Linked DNA regions of Homo sapiens: region 1 is linked to region 2. The links come from fine-mapping of genetic effects on gene expression. A gene starts in region 2. The other region holds a variant in brackets. All regions are shown on one strand. Distances are from middle to middle.

What was found.
Region 1: its variant is fine-mapped to the expression of ZNF500 in whole blood (TOPMed, PIP above 0.99).

What each region holds. Positions count from the first base shown.
Region 1 is chr16:4,726,735-4,729,746 of GRCh38, forward strand. ANKS3 (ankyrin repeat and sterile alpha motif domain containing 3) reads right to left here. Exons shown (of 18, transcript NM_133450.4): 4 at 245-443; 5 at 1-46. Among named protein-coding and RNA genes, the nearest start is that of ANKS3, 6.0 kb to the right of the region's middle. The variant C/A (reference allele first, on the strand shown) is at 1,358.
Region 2 is chr16:4,765,835-4,768,583 of GRCh38, forward strand. ZNF500 (zinc finger protein 500) reads right to left here and starts at 1,328. Exons shown (of 6, transcript NM_021646.4): 1 at 1,183-1,328; 2 at 1-242. The coding sequence starts at 144. RefSeq lists a silencer at 1,075-1,374 and an enhancer at 2,567-2,646.

The DNA of each region.
Region 1 (3,012 bases), 39 kb before region 2:
GGGCTGTCCAGCCCTGGATGTCTTTCATTTCTAGCTCTGCACCTTGCTTCAAGAGAACACAGAACGTGCGTTACGGCCTCATCTCCTCTGCGTGGGGCGGGCGCCCTCCAGGCGGCCATGCTGCAAGAATCAGAAGTGATTACACGAGCACACACGAACACCGTGGCCTGCAGTGGTTCGCATCTCTGTCAGGGTGGCCACGGAGCCCCTCAGGTTTCTGGGCCTGAGTTCCCTCGTAGCTCACCTGGAGAAGAAAGTAGGCGATGCTCTCGTTGCCACAGCTGGAGGCCAGCATCAGTGGAGTCTGCCCTTCTGGGGTCGGCACATTCACACTCACCCCCGCCTCAAGCAGCAGGTGCACGATTGTGTCGTGGCCAATGTAGGAGGCATACATCAGCGGGGTCCAGCCACCACCATTCTTCTTATTCAAATCTAACTCTCTCCTAAACAAACGCAAGATATGCTAGACATGGCCAGCCGCCTCGCATGTGGGGTTCACCAAAGCTGGTGGCGAGGCTAGGCCAGGCGGGATGAGTTGACAGGAAGCAGAAGTTATCTGCCACCCTGGACGTTGTGGGGATTGGAGGCAGGCAGGCAGAAAAATGCTGACAGTTGCTCGTACACTGCCTTGTGAGGCCCTGAGCCTTCGTCTCCTTGCTCTGATTTCGCATCCTCCTAGCCCAAGGCCAGCTATGCTCTTTCACACCACCAGATAGGCAGATGGCACTCAACCAGGGAATATGTGGCAATGTGTGAAGGCATTTTTGGTTCTCACAACTGGGCAGGGAAGGGCTGCTGGAGGCCAAGGCTGCCGCTAAACATCCCACAGTGTCCAGGACAGCCCCCACAGCAAAGAATGATCCAGCCTGGATTGTCAACACAGCCACAGTTGAAAAACCCTGACCACCACAGGCCTGGCATCTACTAGCCCACTGCTGGGTGGAGAGGAGCAGTGAGGAAAGAAGGGACTCCACCGTGGACAAGTCCCACCGCCACTGATTCATCCTTTGTCACCTCACCTTAAAGAAACATTCTTGAAAAATCTGTGACCAAAGAATCCCATCTTTCTCACTGATTGCTGTTAAAATTCTGGCAATGCATTTTCCCATGGGAAAAAACTGTGGGCTTCCTAGCTGCGACTCTGGGGTTGGGACAAGGGAGTCACATTTAAAATAATACCCACTTGCATGGTTACCTGGGATCCTACATGGTTAACGCCCACAGGCCTTCTTTCCCTTCCCCAGTTCTTGCCTGCAGAGGGGATAACAACTGGTGACTGAACCCCAGGATCTGTCCCTTTTACGGGATTCACTTTTTTGTTGTTTTTTTGAGACAGAGTCTCGCTCTGTCGCCCAGG[C/A]TGGAGTGCAGTGGCGCGATCTCGGCTCACTGCAAGCTCCGCCTCCCAAGTTCACGCCATTCTCCTGCCTCAGCCTCCCAAGTAGCTGGGACTACAGGCGCCCGCCACTACGCCCAGCTAGTTTTTTGTATTTTTAGTAGAGATGGGGTTTCACCGTGTTAGCCAGGATGGTCTCGATCTCCTGACCTCGTGATCCACCCGCCTTAGCCTCCCAAAGTGCTGGATTACAGGCGTGAGCCACCGCGCCCAGCCGGGATTCACATATTAGACCACAGCAGGCAACTACCTTCCATTGCCTGGCAGCCCTCAGTGACTCTGGGATGCACACCTGGGCAGCCATTCCAGAAGGTCCTGATACCAGGGTTCAGTGGCAGCCCCTGGCCAGGGGGGCTGCATGGAGATGCCTCTGCAGCAGGGCTCGAATGCACCCAGCTCGTCCTAACACTATCTTCCTTTACACAACAGCAGAGCATCTCCCTGGGGCTCTCTTACCACTCCTCGTTCAGCCCCACCCCTTCCTTCTGATGCCCCCAGCTCCCCTCAGGCCCCATCCTGTGCTTACTATCAGCAAGCCTCCACCTCAGCTAGTGTCAAAATCCCATCACAACACAAACGCCTCCCCCTGCTCCTCTATGGAGCGGTTATGGACTCTGCATCTTAACAGGACACCCAAAGACTTAAGAGCCTGAGAATTCCAAACGTGACCCTTTGAGGGGCCGTACTGACTGCATACCCAGCTGCCTATGCCTAGAGCCTCCTGTGGAGGGAGCGCAACAGACCACCCTGTACCAAGGTGCACCAGCACTCCATGGGCTGGGTATGTCTAAGTGAGGGCCACAACTTGGGAACCGGAGACCTGGGGCTTCAGCAATGCTTTGCTTTGGCTCACTGGGAACTGGAAGAGGCACGCAGAGAGAGGAAGAGAGGTCGCTGCACCACAATATCAAATGAGAACCAGGAGACAGAGTTAGGCTGTGTGTGGAACATAAGGGGGTGGAAGTGAGGAGACGACCCTTTTCCAAAAACAAGATGATCACATCCTACTATGGGCAAGACGCAGCCATGGACCCTGCCAGGGGCTTTATATTGTCTCTAACTATTGTACACAGATTAGCAAAGGGCAGGTGGGCAGTGACGTCGGGAGGTCATTCCCCAGAGGCACTGAAAGCCCAGCCTCTCTCCTCCTCCATGGCAGAAGCTAGAGGGGAACAGGGATCACAGGGATCGAATGAACCCTCCGGGAAAAGAAGGCCAGGGATCACTTTCTTTTTTCTTTTTTTTGTTTTTGAGACAGAGTCTCACTCTGTTGCCCAGGCTAGAGTGCAGTGGCGCAATCTCAGCTCACTGTAACCTCCACCTCCCGGGTTCAAGCGATTCTCCTGCCTCAGCCTCCTGAGTAGCTGGGATTACAGGTACATGCCACCACACCCAGCTAACTTTTATATTTTTAGTAGAGATGGGGTTTCATCATGTTATCCAGAATGGTCTCAAACTCCTGACCTCAAGTGACCCGCCCATCTCAGCCTCCCAAAGTGCTGGAATTACAAGTGTGAGCCACCGCACCAGGCCATCACTTTCTGTCTTTATTTTTATTTTGCTTGTTTGTTTGGGCATTTCTGCAATTAGTGAATAAAATTAGTCTGGTTAAAGAATGA
Region 2 (2,749 bases):
AGTCTCAGGGCTGGGGTCCTCCGTCTCCACGGAGGGCTCCTCTTCCAAGCAGAAGTCCTCCTCCACCTTCACAATCAGGATCTCTTCCTGTTCCAGGTCCTGCTCCAAGGTTGGCAGGGGCTGGAGGCCAGGGACAGTGGCCATTGCTTCCGGTGGGCCTTGTTCCTTTTCAGGCCTTAGAGTTGAACCTGTCTCTCTCTATACCTCTGGCCAGACACAGGAAGAGAGTTTTTTTCAGGGCCCTGTGGAGAGACGATAAAACCATCTGAAGGGCAGCCCTGGGGCTGGATAAGCCCTTTGGCCTGGGAAGCCCCTGCCCTGGTTCCAAGGCCAGCTCACCCCACCATGGAAAAGGAAAAGGAAGTGGATGAATGTCATCTTTGTTATTAACCCCCTGTTAATTCCCGGGTAATTTACTGAAGGGCTCTGGGCTTTGCTTCCTCACTGGGCAAACAGAGATGATAACAGGACCTACACACACAGGTTGCTGACAGAACTAAAAGGGATGGCTGGGGGCAGTAGCTGACGCCTGTAATCCCCGCACTTTGGGAGGCAGAGGAGGGCAGATCACGTGAGTTCAGGAGTTGACCACCTGGTCAACGTGGTGGAACCCTGTCTCTACAAAAAATACAAAAATTAGCCCGACATGGTGGTAGCACATCTGTAATCCCAGCAACTCGGGAGGCTGAGACAGGAGAATCGCTTGAACCCGGGAGATGGAGGTTGCAGTGAACTGAGATAGCGCCACTGCACTCCAGCCTGGGCGACAGAGAGAGACTCAAACAAAAACAATCTAAAAGGGATGTTTGCGGTCAGAGCTCGAGAATCGTTATTTTCCATGATTAGAGTGGGTCCTATATGGAAGGGGTTCCTTTGGAAATCTGATGAAAAGTAGGGCCTTTCTGCAGACTCTGCCTCAACTTGATCCCCGGTGTCCAGGTCTGGCGAACCCTGAAGCCCCTACGCGGCCCCGTCAGGCACCCCCGCGTGGGTGGTCACGACAGCCCCCCAATTCCAGGGTCCTGGGAGAGCTGGGACCCCCAGGCCGGGCTGCTTTCCCGTCTCATCCCTCAGGTGGAGGGTGAGCGGTACCCGAGGCCGCGGCACAGACCCGGGTGCTGGCGCGGGCCGCGAAATCGAAGCTTCGGCCGGGACCCGCGTCCCCGCGCCCCCCGCACTCACTGGAAGCGCTGCCGGCCGTGGGCAGTTCGGGGCAGGACCGGAGCGGCGGGTCTCGGCGGGAGTAGGACTGCGGGCCTCAGGCTTGGCAGCCAGGGACGCCAGAGCCGGGGCCGAAGACCCTAAACCAGGGGTGCAAACCAGGCCGTGCGGGTGGGCCCGCAGGCGGCATTGTGGGTAACGTAGCCGTGGCACCATTGGCTAAGCCGGCCGTTGGGGGCGTGGCAACACGGCCGAGTGGGCGGGTCCGCGACGTGCACTGTGGTTAATGTGGTCCTCAAAGGCACGCATTGTGGGTAACGTAGTCCAGCACCTCGGTGACCGCGCGAGCGTGCGGCGACTCTGCAGCCTCTGGGCTACTTTCCCAGTCACTGTTCCACACCCGCTCCGCTCTCCTCTGGCCGCCTCCTCCATCTTTAAAGCCAGCAAAGTCGTCCGGGCACGGTGGCTCACACCTGTAATCCTAGCACTTTGGGAGGCCGACGCGGGCGGATCACCTGAGGTCGGGAGTTCGAGACCAGCCTGACTAACGTGGAGAAACCTGGGCGTGGTGGTTCATGCCTGTAATCCTAGCTACTCAGGAGGCTAAGGCGCAGGTTGCAGTGAGCCGACATCCTGCCATTGTCCTCCAGCCTGGGCAACAAGAGCGAAACTCCATCTCAAAAAATAAATAAATAAATAATAAATAAATAAAATAAATAAAGGCAGAAGTTGTTCAAGATAAAACTGGAAGAGATGCCAAGTGCTTGCGCCCACCCTCCCCCAAGAGGGCCCCCAACAACGTCCAACCCCAAATATCCCTTGTCCTGCCTGCTTCTTTCTGACAACATAATAATGGGCATCAATCTTTGTTGTTGTTGTTAGAGATGAAGTCCCACCATGGTGCCTAGGCTGGTCTCAAACTCCTGGGCCCAAGCAATCTTCCCGCCTCAGCTTCCCAAAGTGTCAGGATTACAGGTGTGCCCAGCCAGGTATCAATTCTTGTATGTATGTATTTATTTATTTAGAGACAGGGTCTCACTCTGTCGCCCAGGCTAGAGTGCAGTGGCTCGACCTTGGCTCACAGCAACCTCCGCCGCCCGGTTTTAAGCAATTCTCCTACCTAACCTCCCGAATAGTTGGGATTACAGGCACGAACCACCAGGTCCGGCTAATTTTTGTATTTTTAGTAGAGATGGGGTTTCCCCATGTTGCCCAGGCTGGTCTCCAACGGCCTCAAGCAATCCACCCACGTCAGCCTCCCAAAGTGCTGAGATTACAGGAGTAAGCCACCGCTCCCGGTCGCATCAATTCTTGAGCATCAAGCAAGCAAAACACATTTGTACTTCGTTTCTTCCTCATTTAGTAATAGAGGTACTATAACTAGACCTACCGGTTCAACAAAACAAAACAAAACCCTGAAGCTCTGAGAGTTTTAAGTATTGAACCCCCCAGAGAAGGTCAAACAGGAAGTACAGAAATGGGATTGGAACCCAAATCTTTGATTCCAGAACTTCAGCTCCTAACTACCAGGTTAACGTAGTTTGCCCCTAATCCTAACTTGGGCATCCTAAGGCCCGTCTCCTATGCT